4 separate regions of the Homo sapiens genome follow, and regions 1, 2 and 3 are each reported to be linked to region 4. Evidence: microRNA targets listed by miRTarBase, many of them from high-throughput screens and not tested one by one. Region 4 holds a microRNA gene; each other region holds the end of a gene's coding sequence.

Region 1 (7,000 bases), not on the chromosome of region 4:
CCCCTACCCCATGCTATTCCCGCTATGCCATGCTATTCCCGCTACCCCATGCTATTCCCCTACCCTATGCTGCTCCCACTACCCCATGCTATTCCCACTACTCCATGCTGCTGCCACTACCCCATGCTAGTCCCACTACCCCATGCTATTCCCGCTACCCCATGCTATTCCCCTACCCCATGCTATTCCCACTACCCCATGCTATTCCCCTACCCCATGCTATCCCCCTACCCCATGCTATTCCCGCTACCCCATGCTATTCCCCTACCCCATGCTATTCCCACTACCCCATGCTATTCCCACTACGCCATGCTATTCCCGCTACCCCATGCTATTCCCACTACCCCATGCTATTCCCGCTACCCCATGCTATTCCCGCTACGCCATGCTATTCCCACTACCCCATGCTATTCCCGCTACCCCATGCTATTCCCGCTACCCCATGCTATTCCCGCTACCCCATGCTATTCCCCTACCCCATGCTATTCCCGCTACGCCATGCTATTCCCGCTACCCCATGCTATTCCCGCTACCCCATGCTATTCCCGCTACCCCATGCTATTCCCGCTACCCCATGCTATTCCCCTACCCCATGCTATCCCCCTACCCCATGCTATTCCCGCTATCCTATGCTACATAAACAAGGCGACTTCAGGACTATGGAAGGCCAGGATGAGCATAATCAGGGCACAGTGTCAACAGAGGCTAAAGCACTAAGAAAGGCTCAGCCCAGCTAATCGGCTTGGGCTGGTCACAGACCCAGGTGCTGTCCTTCCTCCTGCAGGGGTTGGTAGAGGTCACACCAGGCAGGAGGGAAGGAATAGGGCTGGTGTGCACAGGTGGTTCCACTCACCATCTTCTGTCTTCTCTTGCAGTAGGCACAGAAATTTGCAATGGCGGCCCAGCACCCAAGTCTTCAACCTGCTGTATCCTGTGAGCACTGGTCCCATGGGGACCCTATGGCTCCCTCAATCTTCACCCACTAGGATTTGGGTTCTGCCTGTGGCTATTTGCTACAAGAGGTTAGGAAGCCCAAGAAAATGACTGAAGATCATTCTGGATATTTTAATTTTTTTTTTTTTTTTTTTTTGAGATGGAGTCTTGCTCTGTCACCCAGGCTGGAGTGCCGTGGCACGATCTCAGCTCACTGCAACCTCCACCTCCCAGGTTCAAGCGATTCTCGTGCCTCAGCCTCCTGAGTAGCTGGGACTACAGGCGCCCACCACCACACATGGCTAATTTTTGTATTTTCAGTACAGATGGGGTTTCACCATATTGGGCAGGCTGGTCTCGAACTCCTGACCTCAGGTGATCACCCGCCTCAGCTTCCTGAAGTGCTGGGATTACAGGCATGAGCCACCACGCCCAGCCTGTTTTTATAAACTGAAGCCAACTGTGAATAAACTGTAGCCTACATTACTCATCCATTTTTGGATAGTTACCACTGGGAGACCTTTGAAAAGGGTCCATGAACTCTGAAATCACTGAGAACATTTGCAGCCACACATGTACATATGTGTACACAGGTAGACAGATGGACACAGGCCGTTTCTCATCCAGTTTAGGAAAACACACATGCTCAGGAATTCAGAATAAAATAAACAGAAAACTACTTGCCCATTATCTGTGGTAAAATGATAGCGGAAGCCACACTACATTTGACCCATCAGAAAATTCTGCCAGAGAGGTCAAGGCCATGAGTAAAGCGGCCATCCAACTTCAGTGGTCTGAGCGGAAATGATCTGTAATAAACACCATGTAGAGTGGCTCTGATGGCCCCAGACGGCACCAGGAGGGCAGTGCAGGGCTGGATGCCGAAGCCCGTGCACCCCCATGATTAAATATTGGTGAGCCTGGAGTGAAGGACAGAGGCAAAGAAACGGACTTCCCAGTTGAAATCGGTATTATGTTAAATTCAGGATGTTCAACTCATGATGTGAGCTCCAAGGCATTTGCTCCCAACACTAGATGACGCTTAACTAGATGGGCTCATTGGGGTGGGCGTGGGAGAGCAGCAGACATGCCCAGCACAGCCATGGGGCTGCAGGAAGGGGGTGCTGGGTTTTTTGCTTGAGACAGTCTCACTCTGTCACCCAGCCTGGAGTGGAGTGGTGTGATCTTGGCTCAATGCAACCTCCACCTTCCGGGTTCAAGCAATTCTCCTGCCTCAGCCTCCTGAGTAGCTGGGATTACAGGCACCCATCACCACAACCAGCTAATTTTTGTATTTTTAGTAAAGACAAGGTTTCGCCATGTTGGCCAGGCTGGTCTTGAACTCCTGACCTCAAGTGATCTGCCCACCTTGGCCTCCCAAAGTGCTGGGATTACAGGTGTGAACCACCGTGCCCAGCCTTTTCATCTCACTGGTCAGAGACCCCTGGTATCCAGAGCCTGGGTCTGGGATGAGGGGCTCTTAAGAGGTTCTGAGGGATCCTGCAAACAGCCCCTCTGGACGCCAGGACAGGATGTGAAAGTATCTTGCTCACTCAAAGCTCACCTTAACCAAATGTCCTGAAAAGCTTATAGGCTGCTTCTCCCTTTGGCCTTATATTTGCAAACGAACTCATTTTACAAACTGGGGCTCCAAGCCTAGATTTGCTCAAGGCACATAACTGGGAAGTAGCAAATTCAATCTGTCCATTGCAAACCACCAGGCCAAGGGTTTGGGTTGTTGGCAAGCTCACAGCCAGGAGGGGCGAGAAGCCCAGGAAGCCTGCTGGGGAGGGAAGTGGCTCAGGCACCACAAGACCACCTCCCTGCACAACTCAAACAGCACTCAGGCCCTGTGCTCAGGAGGTCACATCACCAGACTTTTAGTCCCAAGTCTGACCTGGCCACTTCCTGGGATCAAAGGGAGGATTTGTGAAATGGCAGGTTGGGGCGAGGGGTTATTGTGGAGGAGGACCCAGCTTCCCAACTGTAAGGGCGTCAGTCAGTGCCTACCCCTCCCCATCCAGGGGTCTGGGCTGCTGAGAGCAGCAGCCTAGAACTCAGAATCAAGACAACCCCAGTACTCATGAGGCCCCCAGCTGACTGACTCCATTACAGACGGCCTTTGGGGCTCCCCACCTGGATGCCCCAGACAGAACAGGCAGCGCGCATCTGTCCTTCCCACTGTGTTTACATGATGCATTCTGGGTCTGTGAATGGTAATGTGGATTCTTTTGAAACCCCCTCCCTGTCTTCCACCTCACGTGAACTGGGAGGTGGACAGAACTTCAACCTAGGAATTCCACAACCAGCGACAGCAAATGAGGAGCCGGAGTATCACACAACACAGGAAGCTTTATTCATCCGCTGCTGGTCCAAAGAGTGGGTCGCAGGGTCACTCACTTTAATATGCTGTCATCTTGGGCCGGAAGGTTAGAAGAAAAGCACATGTTACCACTCAGGCAACCTAAAAAGACCACTTCAGCTTCCCAGTTATTTTTTTTTTTTTTTTTTTTGTTTTGAGACGGAGTCTCGCTCTGTCACCCAATGGCGCAATCTCAGCTCACTGCAACCTCTGCATCCCAGGTTAAAGCGATTCTCCCACCTCAGCCTTCTGAGTAGCTGGGATTACATGCACCCGCCATCATGCCTGGCTAATTTTTTTTAGACAGAATTTCACTTTGCTGCTCAGGCTGGAGTGCAGTGGCGTGATCTCAGCTCACTGCAACCTCCGCCTCCCGGGTTCAAGCAATTCTCATGCCTCAGCTTTCTGAGTAGCTGGGATTACAGGTGCCTGCCACCATGCCCGGCTGATTTTTTGTATTTTAGTAGAAATGGGGTTTCACCATCTTGCCCAGGCTGGTCTCGAACTCCAGAGCTCAGGCAATCTGCCTGTCTCAGCCTCCCAAAGTGCTAGGATTACAGGCATGAGCCACCGCACCGGGCCATGCCCGGCTAATTTTTGTAGAGACAGGGTTGCACCATGTTGGTCAGGCTGGTCTTGAACTCCTAACCTCAGGTGATCTGCCCGCCTTGGCCTCCCAAAGTGCTGGGATACAGGCATGAGCCACCACGCCTGGCCAGCTTCCCCATTTTTAAACAATCCGCATCTACTTAGCTCTGCTTAAATGTCCTCCTCCATTTTCCTTATCCCTGCACAAACCTGGGAGGGACAATCTATAAGAGCCAGTGTCACTCGTACCTTCTGCCAATTCTCTGGCAATCCGTTTCAGTTCATCCTGCTTCTTCTTCTCTTCTGCTGCTATCCTCCTCTCCTCTTCTGCCCGAGGTTTTAGGTAATCTGTTTGGCGGAATGCAGGAGAATAAAATTCACTGGAAATGCTGTACAAAAGGAACTGAGTCCACAGGTCAAGGTATCTTCAGCGACGCTGTAAACCAGACGCACCTGCTGTTCCCGCTCTTTATGTTAATGCGAGTCAACGCCTGACCTTCACCCTGACGAGTCCAACCCAGAGGCTACAGGGCCCCTGCTGCCCACCCGCTCACGCACTGGCTCACTCGTCCTCTGCGAACAGGGACTGCCTCCCATCAAGACCTCAGCACTCGAACAGCCATTTAGCACCCGTTTTCACCAAGAAGCAGCCGTTTTCGAGTCCCCCGCCCGGGCCTCAGAAGCCTGAGCTTTGGGTGAGCTGATTCCACTATCGGGGTCACGCTCGGTGGAGGACACGGTCCTGCAGCCTCGCATGCGTCCCAAGCCCCCTTCCAGAGCTGGAGTTCTCCAAATAGCACAGGAGCTCCACAGGAAAGCCGAGCAGACCCCGCCCCGGCCCCGCCCGCGGTCACTCACTGTAGCGCGTGGCTCCGTAGGCCACACCGAGGAACAGGGCGGAGTAGCGGCCGAGCTGCGAAAGAGGTTGGTCAGAGGCGGCGCGAAACGGGGCTCGCGGGACGGGGGTCGCGGGAGGAGGGGGGGCGGGGTCGCTGGGCAGAGGTCGCAGGAGGGGTGGGGGTCCGGTCGCCGGGCGAGGGTCACGGGGCGAGGATCATGGGGGCGGGGGCCGGGGGTCGCAGCCCGCGGGGTCGGAGCTGCGGGGCGGGACACGGGGGGGCCCAGAGCACTGGGCGGCGGCTGCAAAGCCTGGATCACCTTGATGAGCGGAGAGACCTGCACCGGTGGCACCATCTTGTCCCTGACCTCCGCACCGGAAGCACAACCTGCAGACGGAGCAGGATGCCGCACAAGCCAGCAAAGCCTTGGAGGCAAAGGCGGAGCTGGGCGCACGCATGCGCCGTCAGCGGCGAGAGAGCGGGGGGCCGCGCCCCCTGGCGACCGAAGGGTGACTGCGCGCCCCCGCGCGGCGGTGACGTCACGTGAGGCGCACGCGCACAAAGGCTGGGGAGTGCGCGGAGGATCATCGGCTGCGCCTGCGCAGTTGCTGCGTGAGGCGGGATCTGCGCCGAGTGGGCGGGGGGTTTCCTTTCCCCGCAGGGCTGGGGGTCCGCTGTTTCCCCGCGCTGCTGCCGAGGCCCCGCCGTCCGCGTCCTGGCCGTGTGTCCACACCCCAGACTGCGGGCCGGGGCGCACTCTGTCTTCTTGCGCGGAGCGTCGGAGGCCTGAGGTCAGGGCGGCTCGGGCGGGTCCAGCCCCGCGGACCGCGCCCACCCGAGGGTGGCCTGGGCAGGGACCTGGGGGTCCTGGGAGCGGAGTGTGAGCCGAGTGCAGGTGGCTCCCCGGGCAGGTCCTTCTCCTACAAGGCAGTAGTGTCTGTCGCCGGCCGGGCCGCGTTGGATTCCGCGGCCCGCGGGAGCATGGCCTCCAGGCCCCTCTTCCTGCGGCTGCTCTGCCCGGGAGCACGGGGCGCCCTTCATCCCGGAGCTGGAGCTTCCTCACCCCAGGATGCCCCATCACTTCTGTCCCGAAGAGGGGCTGGGATCTTCTTGGGAAGACCAGCCCCCAACAGAGGCTGCTCCCTGGGTCCCCCGACTCCAGGCCTCAGGACTCCACGGCTCCAAGGGCCTGCCCCGGCCCAGGCCTGGGGACCACTGAGCCCCACACTGGTCTTTGCTGGCCTCTGTCCACCTCCCGGTAGCTGTGTGTCTCCCACAGCTGCCCAGAGATGGGGCCTGCGGTGCCTATGCAGCCTCCCCGCTGTGCCCGAAGTGCTGACCCGCCAGCCCCATGGACACCAGGCTTGGAGTCTAGGCAGGAGCCTGGCACCCCCTCCACGTTCTGGGTCTTCCTGGCGGCAGCCATGCTGCCCGTGCTGGGCCACCCTCGGGCCCCCTTTGGCCCCATGCAGTAGTGACGCAAGGCCTCCTGTGTCCCCTCCTGGCCCTGCACTGCTACAGGCAGAAGCAACTGGAGAACTATGGCTCGGGTCTCGCTAAGGTGCAGCATCACAAACTCCAGGACTCTTGAAGCAAGCATGGGGAGGACCCGTGATCCTGGCGGCCTGGGCTACCTGTCCGGGCCTAAGTCGCCTCTGCCCCCTCTCCTGGCTTGCTCTGGGGTCCAGGGCCTGGGCCTCTCTGGCTGAGAAACTAGGAAGTCACTGGGCTCTGTTTCCTGAGCTGGGTATACCAAGGCCAGTCCTATAGGGCAGGGGTCCCCAACCCCCAGGTGCAGACCAGTACCAGCTTGTGGCCCGTTAGGAACCGGGCAGCACAGGACGAGGTGAGGGAGCATGATTGCCCGAGCTCCACCCACTTTCAGATCAGCCTGGGCATCAGATTCCCATAGGAGCGTGAACCCTACTGTGAGCTGCGCACTTGGATCTGGATTGCGCTCTGGTGAGAATCTAATGCCTGATGAACTGAGGTGGAATAGTTTCATCCCGAAACCTTCCTCCCCAACACGGAAAAACTGTCCTCCGTGAAACCTGTCCCAGGCGCCAAAAAGGTTAGGTACTTGCTGTAGGGCCACCTGATCTTTTCTCCAGCTTCTGTGAGGTTGGCTGGCAGTCCCTGAAGACTCCTGCCTGAGGCCTCTGCCTGAACCCTGTCCTCAGGGGGCCAGAAGCAAACTCCAGCCCTCCCCGTGTCTACTGCTCGCTGAGGAAGCCGCAGGTGCACACTGGATCCACAAGGCACAGAACCATCTTGGCCC
Region 2 (7,568 bases), not on the chromosome of region 4:
GCATGAGGGAGAGCAGCGAGCGGCAGCCACTCCTTCGCCGAGCCAGCAGGGCCATCTCCTGTCTGCCTCAACCACTACTGGACTCAGCCTTTCTCCCCCAGCAGTGACATCAAAATAGCCTATTTATAGGACATAACAAAGATGATGCCAGCTGTTAATAAAAATGTCCGCTAATCAGGCAGTTCACTTGCTGCAGTTTTTTGGGGTCCCAAGGGCCCAGCCCAGGCTCCTGTGCCCTTGGCCACCGTGGGCCAGTCCCTGGGGTCTTGTGGGAGCCTCCGCGGGCCTGGGAGTGGCAGGACCCTTAGAGGGCGAGAGTTCACATGAGAGCGTGGGGTTCTGACTCGCGAGGGTTCACGTGAGAGCGTGGGGTTCTGAGTCGCGAGGGTTCACGTGAGAGCGTGGGGTTCTGACTCCCTCGTGTCATTTCAGCCGCGGCGAGTCCTTTGCACATGTTGGCAACACACGCATCCGCATCGGCCTCCCTGCCCACAAAGCGCCACAACGGTGACCAGCCGGAGCAGCCGGAGCTGAAGCGGATCAAGACAGAAGACGGCGAGGGCATCGTCATTGCCCTGAGCGTGGACACGCCACCGGCAGCCGTAAGGGAAAAGGGTGTCCAGAACTAGCGACCGGGAGAGCTTTTCTTTAACGATATCAACTCTGTGGTGCCAAAAGGAGACGCGGCCTCCCGCCAGCACTCGGGGGTGCAGGGCCCTGTGGTTGGACTTCACCTCTCAGCACTGAAAACCCAAAACCCAGCTGGCCTTAACACTCCTTAAAGACAGAAGTCACACTTGAACAAAACCCACACACAACAAAACCTGATTTGGGAGACGGTGTCTCCACTGAGCACCTGCTGGGCTGAGCTTCTACCTACGAGTGAAACTCTGTCCTCCCGCGAGGACCAGGCATCGCTGTGTGAGGACGGCACGGCCAGCGCCTGCTGTGAGTGGGTCTCCCAAGACTAGGCCTCAGGACGCGGGGGGAGCCATCCCCGCCGCCCTCACAGGACCCACCAGGCAGCGGAGACATGTGGAATTAGAGTATTTTGAGGTGTCCTTTCTTTACAAAATAATGGGGTCTTGGGCATTTCACATCACTCCATTTCTACTGAGACTTTCAGAATCACACAGGCCCTTTCCGTGGATTTCATTTGGGGCAAAGAAACAACGTAGTTTTGTTTTTGTTTTCAGCCTATGGAATGATTTCCTTTTGTCTGTCTTGTTCAAGTTCAGACGAAGCTACTCTGGCATCTGCACATTTCCGTGTTACAGCAGCTGCCTGATGAATTTTATCCACCTCCATTTCAGCATGTGGCTCGCGTGGACAGGTGGACGGACGCTGTGGCCGCATGGAACCTTGAGAACCCAGGGACGAGCCAGTGCCGGGAAGGAACTGCCGGGACTCACCGAGCTGCACTTAACTGTTCTCTTTCTGGCTATTTTTTGTTGTTTGTTTCTTTGTGTTGACTTTGTCCCTGGCAAAATTTTCCACTCTGAGTAAAACAAGTCTCCTAAGTATTGTGTATGTTTAAAACGACAGAACCATTTCTACTTCATTTGGAAAAAGATTCAGTCTTTTATCACAGGCCCTTTTGAAACTCAGATCCCAGGTCTCTCCGTGGTATGTTTGTATTTGGGGTGTCCCTCCGGCTCTAGGCGGCCTCTGACCTGCTGTCTACTCCCCACCTTCGGTGAGCGGCCGCCATGGTGGAGCAGGGTCCGAGCCACGTCCTGCAGGGCACGTCTGGGGCATTTCCTGTTTTGTGGTAGGAAATGTCCCTGACCTTTCAGAACCGAACCCAATCCTGAGGCTGACTCCTCTACGGAAAATGAGGACAGGACGGGGGTGAGGGAATGAGAGTGGGAGGTCCCTGCACCTCCTCGCCCGGCTCCTCAGGAAGAAAACCGCTGGCCCTTCCCGAGTGTGCCGGCCGAGGGCCGAGGGCCGTGCACATGGGGAGAGGGCGTCAGCCTGATGGCTGAGCTTTTAAATGTCATCATCATAACATTATTTATTTAAATGTAGTTATTTTGGTATTTAATTTTTTTTTAGAGAGGAAAAAACCTGTATTTTCCTGGTGGGATGAAATAGGGATGAAATGGCTCAGAATGGTATATTTAGGCAATTTTAAAACATTTATTATTTACATAAAGACCAAATATGATGAATCTGTTCCGTGAATTGTGTCGGCCCTCAGCATGGGGCTGGGGCAGCGTCACTGCGGTGACGCCCATTGAAAGGTATGAAATGACTGCACACTAGCTGGATTATCACTCAGCCGTTTAAGAAATAAAAGCAAAACCATCACGTGACTGAGACCGTGTGTGTGACCGCAGCAAAGCGCAGCGTGTGGATGGATCAGAGCCCCTCGGTGCAGCTGTCTGCATCTTCCAAGCACTTTACAGATACCTTGGAATGTATATTTTTGTCTTCTTACTCAGAAGGTTTGCAGTTTGTAAAATAATCAGGATTCTGCTCTGTCCTGTGTGTGGGGTCAGCTCCCTCCACAGAGGGCTCCAGCTCTGTTGGTCACAGCTGATGGGGTTCTCTGATTGATAGGAGACGAGCTCTTGAGCTCTAAGGAACAGTGAGGTCGCCGGTGGGGAGCTTGGCTGGGACACCAAGCAAATGCATCGTATGTCCCCTTGGAGACGTTTTTATGCAGCTGTGTATGTTACTATCCAGAAGGAGTCGGGGGTAGACTTTCCCGTGTAAGCTCAGTCCATAAACTGGTTACTTCTGATCCTGGAACGTGGACTTCACATGATAGGTCTGGATCTGTTTCTGTTGGGATCACAGGTAAGGAAAATGTCCATTCAAATGGTAAAGAAGGGAGGAGGGTGTTTTTTTTTTTTTTTTTTGCCGTAGGCACCATTCTGCATCTTGAACCCAGACTGAAGTGTGCCTCTCACAGATGGAAGGTGCACACGCTCCTGTCTCCTCCTCACTCTGCCACGTTCACTTGGCTTTTTCATTGGTACCTAGGAATTTAAGAATATCGAAGCGAGAGCAGTAACAAACCATAGATGAGCAGACTCCCACACCGGGTTTTCTTGCCCGTCTTTAAGGCACTGTTTCTAAATTTTGAACTTAGCTCTGAATCCCCAAGAACTTGAGCACAGCAAGGGTTGCTGAGCTGCTGTCGCCGCAGCCCTGGCCCCTGGTGCTGGAGCTGCAGCACCTTTGGGAGAGGTCCTGCGTCGTCCTCAGCTGCGTCGCTGTGAACTCCCGCTCTCCACTGTGTTCCTCAGTGTCTGCTTTTCAGGAAGTCTGCTGTGACCTTTGCCCAACTTCTGAGCTCCTCAGGGACTAGGAACAATTTCAGTAGCTTTGCCCTGAACCAAACGAGAAAACAAAAGGGAACTCCCGTATGACCCACGTCACGTGGTGCACTCAGAGTGTGTGCGGCATGATCCTCGGTTGCTCCTCCTCTCACTTTAGTAGAGTACGCGGTGGACAGCTGATCTCCTTCAGTCGTCTACCCACTTCCGTCATTGTCCTCCGCTAGAATAACAGAGTAGTTGGTAGTCATGGCCAGAAGGGGGGTGGGGGCAGTGTGAGGACTTGGGGTTTCTGTGCTGTGTGACACAAGGAGATAAGTGACAATCTTGAAGTCCTAACTTCCACTATTCTAGAAAGTATAGTGGTGATTTGTGTGCAAAGATTTGAAGTTTTAAAAAAGTACCAAGTTCCTGAAATTCAATAAAATATTTTTATTAATTTTAATGGAATGCAGAGTATCATTTTCATTTTGATTGACTGACTTTTTACTTCATGCTCTCTTCTGAGCACACCGGAGGCCTAGCGCATTGGCAAGAACTTAACCAGGGAGCTGCACTGAGGACCAGCACTGCAGGCCCTGCCAGTGGGACAGCGGGTTGAGCGTGCAGGTAGAAAAGGCGCCGTGTCACAGGCAGTGGTAACAGGGTCTTGATTGATTGATCTATGATGTCGGAGTTTTAAAGTTACTTGGAGATTGTGGCTGCCACTATTTCTTCTGCAGACTTTCTCTCCAACCTGAGAATGAAGATCACTGCAAAGCATCTTGAGGGACATTTTCTCAGAAAATGAAAAAGCAGCTCTTGGCCGGCGCGGTGGCTCATGCCTGTCATCCCAGCACTTTGGGAGGCCGAGACGGGCAGATCATGAGGTCAGGAGATTGAGAACATCCTGGCTAACATGGTGAAATCCCATCTCTACTAAAAATACAAAAAAAATTAGCCGGGCGCAGTGGCGGGCGCTTGTAGTCCCAGCTACTCGGGAGGCTGAGGCAGGAGAATGGCGTGAACCTGGGAGGTGGAGTTTGCAGTGAGCCGAGATTGCGCCACTGCACTCCAGCCTGGGCGGCAGAGCGAGACTCCGTCTCAGAAAAAAAGAAAAAGCAGCTCTTCTGAAGAGGTACTTGGGTATTCAAGTTCCCACACAGGAACACTTTGATCTTCAGGCCCTGAAAATCTGGTGTGGATCGCTAATGTCTGGAATCGTGATGACATTATCAGTACTCACCCCAGGGTAGCAGAGGGAAGAAACCGTGCTGAAAATGACACAGAGGCCTTTGGGAGCTAAATGATGTTCACGGACAGAGAGTTCATAACGGAGTGTTTGTTTTATTCCTTACACTGATCCCCTAATTTAAAACAGTTCATACTGGCATAAAAGAACTGTTTATCACGCCCTGCGAGACTGCCTCTTCCAGCAAAGTGAAGCAGTCATTTGTAATTTGTTTCTGCCAGGTCTGCGTCTGCAGTGCACCCGGGCTGCGTTGATGGGTGCTGGGAAATTGTCACTGTTTGTTGCCCCCTTTCTGAGCTATGTCCACAGCAACACAAAATTACAATTCAGAGTGGGTCTCAAGTGACCTCTGATGACTAAACTGGCTACAAAGATTCCAGTGGACTCCTCCACCTGTGTCTCCTAGGGGTTATGACTAACTGTGGACCTAACAAACAGAGCAACTATCTCAGTCCTATGGAAAGTCAGTCGTATATAATACAGAACAGCAGGCAGACTAGAGCCAGAACAAGGACCGGTGTGATGGGTTTTTCCTGGGTTTTCCCCTCCCATTGCTGAGCCTAGTCCGTTGCTGGGCCTAGTCGGGGGCGGTCTATCCGAACTGCACATTAGGGATGAACATTAAAATCTCCAAGAGAAGCCCGCTTCCCTCTCATCCTGGGCAGAGACGGTCGTGGGAAACTCCTGCAAGCAGCAGCCCTGCAGACACTGGCGACTCCCACAGAGCCCTTCACGCTGGCGACTCCCACAGAACCCTTCACGCTGACGAGAGGAATTGGAAAACAGGCCCCTGTAGTCCAAAGAGCATGAGGGAAATCCCTGCTCCACTTTGGCCCCAAGCTGGACCTAGTCATAGGAATGGGAACAGCACAGAGAGGCTGAAACCTGGGCTTTTAAGTCAAAGGACACAGCAGAGGAGTTAAGAGACCCCCTAAAGCTCCACATGAATGGCACTGACGTGGGGAAAACAGCAAAGGCTATTTGAGCTCAACTCCTGTGTAGACTGGCCCCTGGGTGAACAGCACGACACAGACTTGGAAGACTAGCCTGACACCAGAGTCACAGCTCCAGGAGGCAGGCTGGCACATGCAATCAGAACATAACTGGGTTACTTGCCTGCTGAGACACAACTCAGCATCCTGCAGAGGGTTTCATGGACTTGGGAGTCTCAAGGTATGCCGAATGTCTAGAATACAAAATTACTAAACGTAAAAAGAGCCAGAAAAATCTCTGCCCTAAAGTGAAAAGACCGAATGCCAACTCTCACATGACCCAAATATTGGGAATATCAGATAAAGAACAGTTATTATAACCATGCTCTGTGAAATAAGGGCAAATGCTCTTGAATCAAAGAAATGAAAAAATTCAGTGAATAAACAGAAAAACATTTGGAAACAAAAATGAACTGGGACTTGTAGGACAAGATTGAAGGGTCTACTGTGTATGTCACTAGATTCCTATAAAACAGAGAAACAACGTATACAATTTTTTTTAAAGAAATATTTTAGTCCGGGTGGGCGCGGTGGCTCATGACTGTAATCCCAGCACTTTGGGCGGCCGAGGTGGGTGGATCACGAGGTCAGGAGATCAAGACCAGCCCGGCCTACATGGTGAAACCGCATCTCTACTAAAAATACAAAAATTAGCCGGGCATGGTGGCACACACCTGTAATCTCAGCTACTCGGGAGACTGAGGCAGGAGAATCGCTTGAGCCCAGGAGGCGGAGGTTGCAGTGAGCGCAGATTGCGCCACTGCACTCCAGCCTGGGCGACAGCGAGACTGTCTCATTTAAAAAAAAAAATACATATATATATATTTTTTTAATTTATTTTTATTTATTTATTTTTTTGAGACGGAGTCTCGCTCTGTTGCCCAGGCTGGAGTGCAGTGGCACGATCTCGGCTCACTGCAAGCTCTGCCTCCCAGGTTCAAGCGATTCTCCTGCCTCAGCCTCCGGAGTAGCTGGGACTACAGGCACCCACCACCACGCCCGGCTAATTTTTTGTATTTTTAGTAGAGACGGGGTTTCACCGTCTTAGCCAGGATGGTCTTGATCTCCTGACCTCATGATCCGCCCGCCTCGGCCTCCCCAAGTGCTGTGATTACAGGCGTGAGCCACCGCGCCTGGCCTATATATGTGTGTGTGTGTATATATATATATATATATTTTTTTTTTTTTTTTAATAAATACTTTAAAGATTCACGAAGGTGAGTGAATTCCAATAAGATCATCTCAAGGAAAACCATGTTGAGGCAATAAACTAAAGAAAAGACATTTTTTTTTTAACCTGGAAAGCAGCCAAAGAAAACTGACTTATCCAGGTTGAGTATTCCTAATCTGAAAACTCAGTAATCTAAAATCCGAAACTTTGAGTGTTGACACGATGCTCAAAGGAAATATTCATTGGAGCATTTTGGACTTCAAATTTTTGAATTAGGAATGCAGGGCGGGGCACAGTGTCTCATCCCAACACTTTGGGGGGTCGAAGTGGGAGGCTCACTTGAGCCCAGGAGTTGGAGACCAGCCTAGGCAACTTGGCAAAATCCTGTCTCTACTAAAAATAAACCAAGTGTGGTGGTGTGCACCTGTAGTCCCAGCCACTCAGGAGGCCCAGGCGGGAGGATCGCCTGAACCCAGGAAGCTGAAACTGGACTGAGCCGTGACTGCACCACCACACTCCAGCTTGGGCAATGGGAGTGAGACCTTGTCTCAAAAAACAGACAAACAAGGATGCTGAAATGGAAAGTACACTGCAAATATTCAAAAATAAAGATTAAAAAAATTGCATTCTGAGGCCGGGCGCAGTGGCTCACGCCCGTAATCCCAGCACTTGGGGAGGCCGAGGTGGGCAGATCACGAGGTCAGGAGATCGAGACCATCCTGGCTAACACGGTGAAACCCCGTCTCTACTAAAAATACAAAAAATTAGCCGGGCGTGGTGGCGGGTGCCTGTAGTCCCAGCTACTTGGGAGGCTGAGGCAGGAGAATGGCGTGAACCCGGGAGGCGTAGCTTGCAGTGAGCTGAGATCGCACCACTGCACTCCAGCC
Region 3 (7,700 bases), not on the chromosome of region 4:
CATTCTCAGAGTTCACAATTTTCCTCTGATCAAGAAATAGCTCATCTGCTGCCTGAAAATGTGAGTGCGCTCCCAGCTACGGTGGCAGTTGCTTCTCCACATACCACCTCGGCTACTCCAAAGCCCGCCACCCTTCTACCCACCAATGCTTCAGTGACACCTTCTGGGACTTCCCAGCCACAGCTGGCCACCACAGCTCCACCTGTAACCACTGTCACTTCTCAGCCTCCCACGACCCTCATTTCTACAGTTTTTACACGGGCTGCGGCTACACTCCAAGCAATGGCTACAACAGCAGTTCTGACTACCACCTTTCAGGCACCTACGGACTCGAAAGGCAGCTTAGAAACCATACCGTTTACAGAAATCTCCAACCTAACTTTGAACACAGGGAATGTGTATAACCCTACTGCACTTTCTATGTCAAATGTGGAGTCTTCCACTATGAATAAAACTGCTTCCTGGGAAGGTAGGGAGGCCAGTCCAGGCAGTTCCTCCCAGGGCAGTGTTCCAGAAAATCAGTACGGCCTTCCATTTGAAAAATGGCTTCTTATCGGGTCCCTGCTCTTTGGTGTCCTGTTCCTGGTGATAGGCCTCGTCCTCCTGGGTAGAATCCTCTCGGAATCACTCCGCAGGAAACGTTACTCAAGACTGGATTATTTGATCAATGGGATCTATGTGGACATCTAAGGATGGAACTCGGTGTCTCTTAATTCATTTAGTAACCAGAAGCCCAAATGCAATGAGTTTCTGCTGACTTGCTAGTCTTAGCAGGAGGTTGTATTTTGAAGACAGGAAAATGCCCCCTTCTGCTTTCCTTTTTTTTTTTTGGAGACAGAGTCTTGCTTTGTTGCCCAGGCTGGAGTGCAGTAGCACGATCTCGGCTCTCACCGCAACCTCCGTCTCCTGGGTTCAAGCGATTCTCCTGCCTCAGCCTCCTAAGTATCTGGGATTACAGGCATGTGCCACCACACCTGGGTGATTTTTGTATTTTTAGTAGAGACGGGGTTTCACCATGTTGGTCAGGCTGGTCTCAAACTCCTGACCTAGTGATCCACCCTCCTCGGCCTCCCAAAGTGCTGGGATTACAGGCATGAGCCACCACAGCTGGCCCCCTTCTGTTTTATGTTTGGTTTTTGAGAAGGAATGAAGTGGGAACCAAATTAGGTAATTTTGGGTAATCTGTCTCTAAAATATTAGCTAAAAACAAAGCTCTATGTAAAGTAATAAAGTATAATTGCCATATAAATTTCAAAATTCAACTGGCTTTTATGCAAAGAAACAGGTTAGGACATCTAGGTTCCAATTCATTCACATTCTTGGTTCCAGATAAAATCAACTGTTTATATCAATTTCTAATGGATTTGCTTTTCTTTTTATATGGATTCCTTTAAAACTTATTCCAGATGTAGTTCCTTCCAATTAAATATTTGAATAAATCTTTTGTTACTCAGTAGTGTTCTCATAAGTAGCATGTCCAGCTGGATAACTTTCCATTTATTTCCACTAGCAAAATGATTATGTGGTGAAAATATGCGTTCCACGTTAAAATGACAACCCCCCCTTTTTCCCATCAGTGAGCAAAGAGCTTCACTTGGGAGAATCTAGCGGAATGTTAGCCCACATGGAGACAATGATAAGTCAGTTCTGATAAATGGCCATATCCACTTGGGATCTGTTCTAGTTAACTTGTGTGTGTGTGTGTGTGTGTGTGTGTGTGTGTGTGTGTGTGACAGAGTCTTGCTCTGTCACCCAGGCTAGAGTGCAGTGGCGCGATCTCGGCTCACTGCCAGCTCCGCCTCCTGGGTTCCCGCCATTCTCCTGCCTCAGCCTCCCAAGTAGCTGGGACTACAGGCGCCCGCCAACACGCCCAGCTAATTTTTTATATTTTTAGTAAAGACGGGGTTTCACTGTGTTAGTCAGGATGGTCTCGATCTCCTGACCTTGTGATCCGCCCGCCTCGGCCTCCCAAAGTGCTGGGATTACAGGCGTGAGCCACCGTGCCCGGCCTCTAGTTAACTTTTTAAAGAAGTATTATAGACATTTTCTAAACTTGTACTAAGTTAAAAATGTACCACTATTATTTTATATCCTTACTTAAATTGACCAGCAATCAGTCTAAGCTTAATTTAGAACAACATTGGAAATAATAACTAGCACAGGCCAGGCGCGGTGGCTCACGCCTGTAATCCCAGCACTTTGGGAGGCCGAGATGGGCAAATCACGAGGTCAGGAGATCGAGACCATCCTGGCTAACACGGTGAAACCCCGCCTCTACTAAAAATACAAAAAATTAGCCGGGCGTGGTGGCGGGCGCCTGTAGTTCCAGCTACTTGGGAGGCTGAGGCAGGAGAGTAGTTTGAATCCAGGAGGCGGAGGTTGCGGTGAGCCAGATTGCACCATTGCGCTCCAGCCTGGGCAACAGAGCCAGACTCCGTCTCAAAAATAATAATAATAATAACTAGCACTAACATGATGCTACAATTTTTACTGGTTACCAATTAAAATTTCTGAGAAAGGCTTTTAATAAAGTTTTCCAGACAAGTTATAGGTGAGGTAACAAAGAGTCCAGAAGTCCCCTGGGTCAGTTTGATACCTCTTTCCTCTGGACTTCAATTTGCTTATCTGCAAAACAGGAAATTTGATCCCTTCCAAGTGTCACCAGAGTTTTTAAAGATAAAAATGGAATTCAGATGCGAACTTAATACAGTGAGCACTAGAGGGCAGTAGCTGGTTAATAAGTACAGCAATTAAGACAAATGCAGGAAATGACAGAAAAGGCTTTTCTTCTCCTTCCTCCTCACCTCTTCCTTCCTCCTCACCTCCTTCCCCTCTGCTCTTCTGGTACCCCTCCCCCATTTCCCTGGTTTACACTAAGTTCATAAAGTACATTAAGAGGAAAGCTGGTCTATTGAAAATACTACTTTTCTTATATTTTCCAACTTAACAGCTTGACACAAATCTCCAAGGGGTTTACATAAGCTTTAAGTAGGCTGAATAAATAAAACCTTGAGTCAATTTAACTTAACAAGTATTTATTGAATATCCACATGTAGGCCAGAATCAGATTAGTAACCAGGTGCCTTGGAATTTTAAAATTTCTCCTCTCTTTATTAATGGATTTAGCGAGTGGAAATCAGGCTTTCTGTGATGGTTTATAAAGGTATTTTCCTGGCTCTCTTGGAGTTCTCTGTCCACCTTGCTGCAGTCTTTGTTGTGATGGGGAGACCACATGGGAGCGGTCCAGATGAGTGATGCTACGGGCCCAAACTGTTAGTGGCCGTGAGGATATAGGTTGTAGGGGACATCTGGAGTGGAAAGAGTGCTCTTCTCACACAGCTCTCTCTACTTACTGCCCCTAGGATGGTGGGTGCAACTGTGGCAAGGGCAGTCAGGGTAGGGGAATCCCTTAGAGGAATTCAGCAGTGACTAGTCTGGTTAGCCTTTCCCACAAGGCCCATTGAGTTATGAGCCCCCTCCTTTGGTTTGTAGAAAGAGAAGGTAGCAGCCTAGAACAGGTGAGAAGATGAGGTAGGTCCTTCTGCTCAAACATCCTCTCTCCGTATTTTACCAACACGATACTGACCTAGGTTAAAAAGCTACTCTTGGCCAGGCGTGGTGGCTCACGCCTGTAATCCCAGCACTTTGGGAGTCCAAGGTGGGTGGATCACCTGAGGTCAGGAGTTCTAGACCAGCCTGGCCAACATGGTGAAACCCCATCTCTACAGAAATACAAAAATTAGCCAGGCATGGTGGCAGACACCTGTAATCCCAGCTACTTGGGAGGCTGAGGTAGGATAATTGCTTGAGGCCGGGAGGGGGCGGTTGCAGTGAGCCAAGATCGCTCCATTGCACTCCAGCCTAGGCGACAGAGCAAGACTCTATCTCAAAAAAATAAAATAAAATAAAATAAAAATAAGCTACTCTTAGCCAGGCACATAGTGGCTCACATCTGTAATCTCAGCCCTTTGGGAGACTGAGGTGGGAGGATCACTTGAGCCCAGGAGGTCGAGGCTGCAGTGAGCCATGATCACGCCACTGCACTCCAGCCTGGGCGACAGAACGAGAGCCCATCTCAAAAAAAAAAACAAAACAACAACAACAAAAAAAAAACTAAAAAACTCTTAAAAAACCTGAGGACTCCTGGATGAATACTGTTATGTGCCTGTTTCTCAATTACCCCTGGCCTGAGTGAGGAACTTTTGGAACTCTTTGGCTCCCAGACTGTGGTGGGCACTACCGGTCAGCTGCCCAGCAGCCAGCCCTAGTCCCACTTCTGCCTCATTTGTTACAGGTTGGAAGTGCCAGGTTCAGGGATGGGCCTGTGACCCAAGTTTTAGCTGAAAGGAAACCTACTAGGGACTTCTAGGAGAGATTTTCTTGCTTGTAAAGGGAAGGCTGCACAAGGAGAAAAGCCCTTTCTAACCACATCCCCTTATTTCATGCTTGGGATGCTGACCATGTGAAGACTTGGTTGTTGGAGCTGTGGTGGCCTCCCTGCCATGATGAGGGGAGAAGGCACTGCCACACTGAGCGTGGCAGTGGGTACAGGAAGAGTCCAGTCTCCGGGATGCCTTGGTTAATTGACAGGACAAACCCTGGAACTGCCAACTTCCATCTTGTTCTGTAATAATAAATCTCTAATATTTGTACCACTTTCAGTCGAGTATTCTATGATTTATTACTTATTGATAGCAAACACTTAGAAAGTACTTACACTATGGGCCGGGCACAGTGGCTCACGCCTGTAATCCCAGCACTTTGGGAGGCCGAGGCGGGTGGATCACCTGAGGTCAGGAGTTCGAAACCAGCCTGGCCAACATGACGAAACCCCATCTCTACTAAAAATACAAAAATTAGCTGGGCGTGGCGGGGGCAGAGTTTGTAGTGAGCCAAGATTGCACCCCTGCACTCCAGCCTGAGCGACAGAGCAAGACTCCACAAAAGAAAGTACTTACACTATGCGCCAGATTCACTTTTACATATACTAACTCATTTCAATTCCACAACAACCTTTTGAATAATTTTAATCCTTATTCTGTAGATAAGGAAACTGAGACACAGCGAAGTTTAAGGGCCTTTCCAGAGGTCACTTGCCCAGATAGCCTGGCTCCGGAGTTGCCACTTTTTACATTCTTATAACTGGAATGATACACGGTGTAACCAAAAAGAGGTTTGCACTAGATTGGAAATGTTCTAGAAAGCTTTTTGTTGTTGTTTTTGTTGTTGTTGTTTGAGACAATTTTGCTTTGTCACCCAGGCTGGAGTGTAGTGGCGCAAACACAGCTTACTGCAGCCTCCAACTCTCGGGCTCAAGTAATCCTCCTGCCTCAGCCCCCCAAGTAGCTGGGACTACAGGCATGTGCCACCACGCCCAGCTAATTTTTGTATTTTTGTAGATACAGGGTTTTGCCATGTTGGCCAGGCTGGTCTCAAACCCCTGGACTCAAGCAATCTGCCCATTTCAGCCTTCTGAAGTGCTGGGATTACAGGCATGAGCCACCATGCCTGGCCCTAAATAGCTTTTATTTTTATTTATTTATTTAGAGACAGAGTTTTCTCTTGTCGCCCAGGCTGGAGTGCAATGGCATGATCTTGGCTCATTGCAACCTCTGCTCCTGGGTTCAAGCGATTCTCCTGCCTCAGCCTCCTGAGTAGCTGGGATTATGGGTGTGCACTACCATGGCCAGCTAATTTTGTATTTTTAGTAAAGGAGATGGGGTTTCACCATGTTGGCCAGGCTGGTCTTGAACTCCAGACCTCAGGTGATCTGCCCGCCTCAGCCTCCCAAAGTGTCGAGATTACAGGCATAAGCCTGCCCCTAGATAGCTTTTTATTTTGGTTTTTAGACGGCATCTTGCTCTGTCACCCAGGCTGGAGTGCAGTGGCACGATCTCAGCTCACTGCAACCTCTGCCTCCCGGGTTCAAGCAATTCTCCTGCCTCAGACTCCCAAGTAGCTGGGATTACAGGCACCCACCACCACACCCAGCTAATTTTTTAATTTTTTTGTAGAGATGGGGTTTCACCATGTTGGCCAGGCTGGTCTTGAACTCCTGACCTCAAGTGATCCACCCGCCTCGGCCTCCCAAAGTGCTGGGATTACAGGTGTGAGCCACTACACCCAGCCTAGATAGCTTTTAAATGGTGTTGAGCCGAATGATACCTTGAGCCGAAAGCATGGAAATGAAGAGGTCAGTGGTCTCATTCTGGAGTGGGCTTCATACACTTTCCCAGTTGCTGATCACCTGTACCAAAGTTAAGAGTGACTCCTCAGGGACACGCCGGAGCAGAGAACCCATCCTGTTTCCGTGTCCTGTCATCTGGGTTAATAGTACCGCCAGCCACCCAGTATCTCCTGTATTGAGCAACTTCAAAGTCATACTCTGTTTCTCCTGCTGCCTCAGCCTCCACATCCAATGTCTACCAAATATTACCTATTGTCTTTCAAAGACGCCTCTCAAAGTCAGCCGTCCCCACTGCTGCCTCCTGTTTGGTCTCCCTAACTTGCTTCTCCTTGCTCTGCTCCCACATCATATATTCCCTCCTTACGACTTCAAGTTACATTAAAAGCACAGCACACAGTACATGTAACTCCACGCATGACACTCTGTGCTCCCAGTACCTCTAGGGATGATTACCAGTTGCACGTGGCAGGTGTACCAAGGCTCCCCATGCACTAGCCCCAACCTAACCACACTGCAGCTACCTCTGTCCCGTGAAACCTGGGCTGTAGCTACACCACCCTTTTCAACATTTCTCAGTATTGCCAGACACTTTGACGAGCCATCCTCTTCCCTCTACTTGTAAATTCCTTTCCCCCTTGTTCACTTGGCAAATTTCCGCTCATCCTTCAAGACCACGATCACACGTCACCTCCACCAGAGTCTCCCCACACTCTCCCGGGAGACGTATCAATTCCTCCTGGGTTTCTGACACAGCTCGTGATTTATACCATTAGTGAAACACTTCCATGGAATCATAATGTATCAGGTTATATATTACCCCACTAGACTGGGATACGTTAGACAGCAACATTTCTCTGATTCCATCATGCTTAACAGTGTGTCTGGCACATAGGCATTCAATAAGTGATCATGAGTGAATTTTATAACCCGTTCATTGAAGGTCATTTCTTTCAGCAATGGGCAGTAATGTGATTTGGCTGCATACAGAACAGCTTCTATATCATGCAGTGAAAGTGAACGCACTGACGTGCATTTTGTAGCAGAATGGGATAAAATCCAGGTACACAGTAATGAAGTGTATACTCTCACTTCAACTAAGACCGTGTGCAGAGGGATGGGTAGATAAGTATTTGATTTTGTTTATTTCTCTCCTTTGGGTTCAGATAGTATAGTTTCCTTAGCCTATAGAGAGGATGAGCTGACAGAATGTGCTTTTGTTTGTGTTCTTATATTTTTGATTATTTTCCCTTTCTTTCTTTCCTTCTTTCCCTTGCTTTCTCTCCCTTCCTTCCTTCCTTCCTTTCTCCCTTCCCTCCCCTCCCTCCCCCCTCCCCTCCCATCCCGCTCCCCTCCCCCTCCTCTCCCCTCCCATCCCCCTCCCTTCCCCTCCCCCTCCCCTCCCCCTCCCCTCCCCTCCCCCTCCCCTCCCCCTCCCCTCCTCCTCCCTCCCTTCCTTTCTTTCTCCCTCCCCTCCCTCCCCCCTCCCCTCCCCCTCTCCTCCCCTCCCCCCTCC
Region 4 (7,700 bases):
AAAATAAAACCACATGAGCATAAAGAACCTAGTGTTGACGTCAGGCGAGGTCTGCACTGTCAGGCAAAGCTACCACCGAGGGAAAGAGGGAAAGGCACTGGAAGGGAAGGCACGGGGGTAGGGGGACTGGGTGCCCAGCGACCAGTCCAGGGGTTTTCCCTTCCTTTCTTGGCCATCGGCCATCGAAGCTGCTTCCTGCAGAGCCTGCCGCGTCCTCTATGGAAGGCCTTGGTGAAACACCAGCACTCTGAAGGTTCACTCAATGAAGACCCCCAGAGGCCCACTTACTAGCTGGACAAGGTCTGCATTAGGCCCTGGCTGGGTCAGGTTTCAAAACATTAACCTTAAGCTTTTTTACCCTCCTTTTTTTTTTTTTTTTTAAAGGCACAGCTTTCCCAGTGTTTGTGTTCCTTGCTTGCGCCCTGTTTTAATGTTGTAGTTACAGGTGTCCAGCAGGGAGGAATGCAGCCCCTGTGGGCGCTTGGGGGAGCTGCTGGGAATCCAAGTTCAAGGAGCAGCTGTTTTCTGTTTTCTGTTGCCCCACAGCGCCACCTCCTGGCCCCTTGGTGGTGATGATTTTGAAGTCAGCAGGTTCTGGTGGGCCGTGTGAACTCCAGCAGCTCTGGGCTGAGCTGTGGAAACACTGCGTCCTTTGAAATAATACAGCTTCCTGAGCCCACCCCAGTCCCTAAAGACTGCCTCTGGGGTTGAGATTCTGAGATGCTTGACAGCATGGCTTTTCCCGGTGTTATGTGTCGTTTCTATCCTTAAGCCTGTTAGGGGTGGACTGGAGGCTGGACCAAGCTCCACTGGCTGCAGGAGGACCCTTCTGTGGGCTCCAGGCTGGCCGTGTGCGTGTGGGGAGGTGGGATTTGCTGCTAGGCTTCATGATCACTGTGAAGAAGCAGCCCCCAAGAATAGGGTGATAGGCCCTCCCCATGTCACCGGCCGTTCCTAGTCACATCTGTTGTTGCAGCATGTTATCAGTAGAGCCTCCTTTTACTCTTAAAAATGCCCTGGTTTGGATGATTGATCATACCTGCCCCCATCCCCACCCCACCACCCAAAAAGTGCAGCCACCCTGTGGTGTGCGGTGTACTGCTCCAGCGGTGCCTCTCCGTGGCCTCTGTCCTAAATTAAACGATGGGCTAAGATGCCTTGAAATGCCTGCAGCAGGCCCGGCGAGAGCTTGAATGCTCAAAGGTGTCTATGCCAACTTCTGCTTCTTCAATCAAACTTGAGGCTTTAAGAGACAGGCACGAATAAGGTGTCTCTCCAGAAGGAAGGCCTGGGGGAGACGCCTGGGCTGGGGCATGGTGAGGACGCCCCAATCCAGAAGCACAGCCTCTGCCCTGGACGTGCCCAGCTGCCGGAGCCAGGCGCTGCCTCGTGGCCCTGGAGAAACTCGCCTTGGTCTTGCAGATGGAGTCATCCAGGACACTGAGACCCCAGACACCTGGCTTGGTGGCGGCTGTCCCACCCGAATGCTTGGCCGGGCTTAGTGGCAGAAGCCTTGGACTCCAGGTAACAGGGACAAGGTGAGCTTTCTCAAAAACACTGATGGGTTAGCTCCCTTCAAACTCAAATGCAAAAGACCCCCCGGCATCCTCCCACCCTCTCCCTGAAAAGATCTCTTCCAAATGCCTTATGGGGGATCTTACAGGCGAACACATTGTTTAGTTTAAGCCTACTGCCTGGATTTCAAATTCATCATGAAATAAATACTTGGATTCAAAAGATGAAAACAACTGAATTACAACAGATTTCTCTAAATCTTGATAATCACCAGATTCATGTGAAATGTTTGTTGAAAAGAGAGAGCCTAGGCCCCAAACCAGATGTCCCAGGGAAGAAGGGCTTGGAAAACATGTAGTATTAACAAGCACCCTGGTGATTCAATCAGCAGCTGGGTTTCAGAAACTTGGCTTTGAGTTCTCAACTTACTTTGAAGATTTGAAAACAATATAATTTCAAATATTGGCAACTTCAGCAGCACCCAGGACTTCTGAGGTGCTCAGACCAGGCCAGTGGGATGCAGAGGTTTGCACCTCACATAAAAAGGAGCCAATTTCACAGGGCACAGTGGCTCACACTTATAACCCCAGCACTTCGGGAGGCTGAGGTGGGTGGATTGCTTGAGCCCAGGAGTTCGAGGCCAGTCTGGGAAACATGGTGAGATGCCTGTCTCTACAAAAATTAAAAAAAAAAAAAAAAAGCAGCCAGAAGCAGGAATTCACAGAGAGGCATGTGCATGCACACACATGTGCACACACACATGCACACACACACGTACACACACACATGCACACTCCAAAGGAACCTGCTTTAATATTCCTAAAATGCCTGGGAACAAAAAGCCGTTCTTACTCTCCACTCCTTACCTCCACCCTGCAGCCGCCCGTGGAGGGACCGGATGACCTTGGCACTTCCGAACCTCTTGAAGCGGGCTTTCACATGCTCATAGTACCACTCCAGTGAGCCGATCTTCACGACTCTGCAGGGACAAGCACAGGCTCATGGCACTGCCTGAGTGCTGTACACAGGCCTGCATAAATCTCACACACACACACACACACACACACGAGTGTGTGCATGTGTGCGTCCACCCTTCTTCAGCTAGCCCCATGGAAGGGACACGCCAGATCCAGAAACTATCAAGGTCATTTTACCTCAAGGCCTGGGCTCACCTGGCCAGATGGCAGGGGTCACAGATCCAGCCCTGCTCCTCCGGGTGGACGCGGCCACAGCTTTTGCAGGTGAAGAGGCCACATTCCAGGCACTGCCTTTTGCTATTCACAAGCAGCTGGTAGGGCTGCAGGCAGCGGGCGCAGTGGGTCTCGTTCAGATGGGCAGTGTCGGAAAGCAGCTCCCTCTTGGAGCTTTCCTTCTTAATCTTGCCCTTCAACGCCCTTGGGAAAATATCAGAAACAAGAAATATATTGGGCATCTTGTTTTTGCAACAGGCTTTAAGTGTGTACACGTACATACACACACACACAGACACAGACACATACACACACACAGTAACTGTCTCCTATGCAGAAAACAGTGACCCAACGTTGGGCAAAGCCACACAGGCATCTTTGTTTTGAGGGCTGAGCTCAAACGGGCAATTTTGGTGGCTGGAATGGAATGGAAACACGTTAATTTCATAGAAATGATATTGCATTTAAGCATTTCTGTGGCTGTTTACAATTGTACCAATTTTGGTTGGCAGGTCACTGCGCCCTCCCCAGGGCAGTCACAGAATCCTGGGGGCAAAGCCAGATGGTGTTTCCTGATCAAGCATTGTTTTGGTCTCCTTCAGCAGGGGGGCAAGAGTTGAGCTAACGCCCCAGGTTTGCTCCTCTAGAGCGCAGCTGAAATGGCTCGGTGAGTTTCCAGAGCAGGAATCATCTAGCACCCGGAAGTCTACAGTTCTCCTAGACCATCCGAGTTTAAATAACACAGCTTCCTGGTGAACCTGCCAAGTTGAACTGATTGGAAAGTGTATCCTTAGATGATAATGAACACATTTCTTTTGTTCTAGATTTCAGAGAATGTCTGCCAAACGTAATATTTTCAGTTTCAGATGAGATAAAATTAATCCATTCTTAGTGACAAAAACAAGAAGGACACTAGGTGCCATTGTCTTCTGAGAACTCTGAAGCACACTGATTTGGAGGCGGACACCCAGAGTGCAGCAAAGGTGAAGAGAGTGGAGGAGTCCCACCAGGCAGGGGGAGGCCACCTCCGGTTTCAAGTGCAATTGGCTGAACTTCACGATTTTCCTCTCTCCACTATTTACAAAAATGTTCACTGAGATGGACACGAAATCAGGCTCTTGTCATAGCTTCAAAAACCAAGAGAAAAAGGGTCAAGCAGTTGTAGGAATCTAGGGGGATACCGCCATCCACAGACTACAGTTTAGATAAAGCTGCATTGACAAGGTAAAGTCTTTGTCCCAAACAGAGGAGCACAAGTCCCTGGAGCCAGATGGGAAGGGCCTCACTCCCTCCATTTCCACCCTTGCCAGCTCTGCACCAACCAGAAAACCTGGAGGCCACCCCTTCGCTGGACAGGGCTTGTTAGCCTCTGTCCCAGGGAGAACCTCTTCTTCTGTATCCAGGCAGAACGGTACCCTGAGGGCCAGCACAGCAGGAAGAAAGACAAGGACATGTGTACTGCCCTGCATTCCAGGCTGGAGGAGTCCTCTTAAATAAGAGCCCAGAAGTGTCCTGGGGCAGCAGCTGGAGGCTGATATATTTCAGAGGCTGAAATTAGGGGAAAGGAGAACTGTACTGTGCTTTAGATTCTTTAAAACATAACTTCCCTTCTTCATAGCCAGAGACCAGGAAGGGAGGGCAGAGAAGACTCCATTTGGGGAGACCAAATGACATCTGCCAGCCACTCCAGGACGTATCAACAAGACCCGGAGCTTCCGATCCTGAGGAGTGAATGGGGCCAGAGCACTCCATGCACTCTGCTAATTGGGTTGACCAGAAGTCACTCCTCAACAGGCAAGAGCCCGGCACGTGGCTCCAATTTAAAGTTAGCTTCAGGAATAAAAGACCCTCCTGAATGTGACTTACCATCAGAAACAGACTCGAAACAAGTCAGCTTGGTGTGCTGAATGGGGCATAAGCAAGTACGTGCAGTCTCAATGAGAGGGACAGAGGAGACACAGGAGGAAACCAGGCTGAGATGGGAGCACCACCGGCTATGCTGGTGGAGGTGGAGAAGAACTGGTTAAGACAGAGATGGCGAGAAATCACAGCTCACAATGGAGGGGGAAATGGGCACAATTTCTACCGTGGAATATTAGATCCAATGATTTCGAAGAGTGGTCTTCAAAGTGTGGTCCAGGGACCTCTCTTCTGGAGGTTCCTAAGATCCTTTAGGGGGGTGAGTCACAAGGCCAAAGCTATTTTTGTAATAATGCTGAGACATCATTTGCCTTTTCTTTGCTCTTTGATGCCTGCACTGAAGGTGTAAAAACAATGGTGGATAAACTGCTGAGGCTTTAGCACGAGTCAGGGCAGTGGGCCCAACTGCTCTGACAGTCATTAGATCCTTCATTGAAAAAGAAATGAGCTGGGTGCAGTGGCTCACACCTGTAATCCCATCACTTTGGGAGGCTGAGGAAGGTGGATCACCTGAGGTAAGGAGTTCAAGACCAGCCTGGCCAACATGGTGAAACCCCGTCTCTACTAAAAATACAAAAATTAGCCAGGCACAGTGGTGGACACCTGTAATCCCTGCTACTCAGGAGGCTGAGGCAGGAGAGTCGCTTGAACCAGGGAAGCAGAGGTTGCAGTGAGCCGAGATTGTGTCACTGCACTCCAGCGTGGGTGACAGAGTGAGATTCTGTCTCAAAAAAAAGAAAAAGAAATGAGAAGAAAAAACAGTTTCATTAAAGAATCACCTTGATGAAACCCTAAAAGTTATGAGTCTTTTTGAACCGTGGCCCCCAGTCCATGTCTTTTGAGGATTCTGCCTGATGAGCTTGGAGGAGGACAGGAAGCTCTTGTGCCACGTGTTGAAGGTGACAGATATTTCTATTAAAAGGATTGGGCAATTGTTCCGATCGCCACCTGAGCTAGAAACTTTTCTTATGAAATAGCATTTTCACTTGAGAGAACAACAGAGAGATGAACTGTTTCGACTTGGGTACTTGGCAGATATTTTCTCAAAAATGAACAAAGTGCGACTCTCACTTCAAGGAAAAGAAGTGACAGTATTTATTGCCAGTAATAAAACGGAAGCTTTCAAGCACAAAGTAGAATTCTGGAAAACATATATCGCCTGCTGTGAGCTTGACAGTTTGCAACACTGGGAGACTTTTGATGAGGGTTTCCAACACCGGGAGACTTTTGATGAGATCGCTGGTGAGAGTAACAGAAGTGGTTCTCTTTTGGTGTGCATATGAAATGTGTCAACATTTGAGAAGTCTGCATCACTCAGTGAGCCGGTGTCTTCCAAATGATTAATGCATGGTGTTACAAAAATCACACAGGGGTAGAAAATCCACTTCAAGTGCAAGAGAGACCAATGGATTTGAACAAACAGAAAAGGAAAAGTTCATTAACATGGTTTCAGATTCCACATCACAACTAACCTTTAAGAAACTACCAACTGGCCGGGCGCAGTGGCTCATGCCTGTAATTCCAGCACTTTGGGAGGCTGAGGCAGGCAGATCACTTGAGGTCAGGAGTTTGAGACTAGCTCGGCCAATGTGGTGAAACCCTGTCTCTACTAAAAATGCAAAAATTAGCCAGACATGGTGGCACGCACCTGTAGTCACAGCTACTTAGGAGGCTGAGGCAGGGGAATCGCTTGAACCTAGGAGGTGGAGGTTGCAGTAAGCCGAGATTACGCTACTGCACTCCATCCAAGGGTGGCAGAGAGAGACTTTGTCTCAAAAAAAAAAAAAAAAAAAAAGAAAAAAAAAAGAAAAAGGAAAAAAACTACCAACTCCAACTGCCGGGTTTTCATGTTGTAACAACACATGATGTTAATTATTGTCTACAAAGGCTATTCAAGTACTCCTTTTTTCAATTATGTATCTGTATGAGCCTAGATTTTCTTCAAATACTACAGCCTAGAAAACATGTTACGACCCACTGAATGCAGAAGCAAGTGGAGAATTCACCCATCTTCTATTGTTCCAGATAAGGGAGGAGACCACCCCTCATATTGTCTTATGCCCAATTTCTGCCTCCAAAGAAAAAAGAAGTAAAAACTAAAAGGCAGAAATGAAATCCACAGGCAGACAGCCCAGCGCCACACCCTGGGCCTGGTAGTTAAAGATCGACCCCTGACCTAATCAGTTATGTTATCTATAGATTACAGACATTGCACGGAAAAGCATTGTGAAAATCCCTGTCCTGTTCTGTTCCATTCTAATTACTGGTGCAGGTGCATGTAGCCCCCAGTCACGTACCCCCTGCTTGCTCAATCGATCATGACCCTCTCACATGAACCCCCTTAGAGTTGTAAGCCCTTAAAAGGGACAGGAATTGCTCACTCGAGGAACTTGGTTTTTGGAGACGTGAGTCTGCCGATGCTCCCAGCTGAATAAAGCCCTTTCCTTCTACAATTCGGTGTCTGAGGAGTTCTTGTCTGTGGCTTGTCCTGCTACACAGACATTAAAGAGATTTGCAAAAGCAGAACAACACCACTCACCTTACTCACACTCTGATTTTGGGAAAATCTCATTTTTTATAAAAACTGTATTTATATTAACATGTAGGGGGTTTACTGTTATTTTTAAATGAGTGAATAAATAAATATTTTTAACTCCCAGTTTTAATTTCTGATGTGGTAAATATTAATAGATATGACCCATATGAATAAAACTCTTTGGGGTTCTCAGTAATTTAGGAAATGTGAAGGGGTCCTGAGGCCCAAAGGTTTGAGAACTGCTGATTTCGAAGTCAAGTTTGCTCTCCCTCCCAGAATGTGGAGAAAAGGGACTAAGCGATGGGAGACAGTGGGGAGATGATGGCAAAGGCCGAGAAAGTGAGCTCCCAGGGGAGACAGAGCCCTGGAGACGGGGATGCATGGGGGTGGAAGGGAAGTGCTGTCCTTGTCCTTGGGGCAGGGGACCCACATTACTGTCCTCTGCAGTCCCACCTCCAGAGGGCCCTGGGACACGCATGCCAGAGCTGTGACTGGTGGGGCAGAACAGAGCCAAGGGGGCACTCCTGTCCTCAAGGGAG

Evidence for each region. The annotated mature microRNA hsa-miR-6811-3p reads AGCCUGUGCUUGUCCCUGCAG and lies in region 4 at 2,495-2,515, opposite strand. An mRNA with a match to its seed (bases 2 to 7 or 8) in the 3' UTR can be bound and repressed. Matches are read on the target gene's strand: a 7mer-m8 pairs with bases 2 to 8, a 7mer-A1 pairs with bases 2 to 7 and ends in A, and an 8mer does both.
Region 1: the mRNA of PDE6B is a reported target of hsa-miR-6811-3p. Seed matches in the 3' UTR shown: 7mer-A1 at 1,346-1,352 and 7mer-m8 at 1,540-1,546.
Region 2: the mRNA of FOXK2 is a reported target of hsa-miR-6811-3p. Seed matches in the 3' UTR shown: 7mer-m8 at 1,132-1,138 and 7mer-m8 at 1,587-1,593.
Region 3: the mRNA of MANSC1 is a reported target of hsa-miR-6811-3p. Seed matches in the 3' UTR shown: 7mer-A1 at 955-961, 7mer-A1 at 1,088-1,094 and 7mer-m8 at 2,158-2,164.

The regions. Positions count from the first base shown.
Region 1 is chr4:669,171-676,170 of GRCh38, forward strand. It overlaps PDE6B (phosphodiesterase 6B), which reads left to right. Exons shown (of 22, transcript NM_000283.4): 22 at 876-1,612. The coding sequence ends at 937. ATP5ME (ATP synthase membrane subunit e) reads right to left here and starts at 5,106. Exons shown (of 4, transcript NM_007100.4): 1 at 5,042-5,106; 2 at 4,742-4,796; 3 at 4,133-4,231; 4 at 3,266-3,349. The coding sequence starts at 5,077. The coding sequence ends at 3,330. It overlaps MYL5 (myosin light chain 5), which reads left to right and starts at 5,372. Exons shown (of 9, transcript NM_002477.2): 1 at 5,372-5,513; 2 at 6,903-7,000. RefSeq lists enhancers at 5,238-5,995, 5,873-5,942 and a silencer at 5,393-5,662.
Region 2 is chr17:82,600,871-82,608,438 of GRCh38, forward strand. It overlaps FOXK2 (forkhead box K2), which reads left to right. Exons shown (of 9, transcript NM_004514.4): 9 at 433-3,732. The coding sequence ends at 629. Among named protein-coding and RNA genes, the nearest start is that of FOXK2-AS1, 16 kb to the left of the region's middle. RefSeq lists a silencer at 2,152-2,261.
Region 3 is chr12:12,323,017-12,330,716 of GRCh38, reverse strand. It overlaps MANSC1 (MANSC domain containing 1), which reads left to right. Exons shown (of 4, transcript NM_018050.4): 4 at 1-4,661. The coding sequence ends at 690. Among named protein-coding and RNA genes, the nearest start is that of MANSC1, 23 kb to the left of the region's middle. RefSeq lists an enhancer at 4,910-5,410.
Region 4 is chr2:237,505,783-237,513,482 of GRCh38, reverse strand. MIR6811 (microRNA 6811) reads right to left here and starts at 2,552; the gene lies at 2,495-2,552. MLPH (melanophilin) reads right to left here. Exons shown (of 16, transcript NM_024101.7): 3 at 2,688-2,909; 4 at 2,382-2,494. RefSeq lists enhancers at 1-199, 200-700, 2,081-2,581, 2,582-3,082.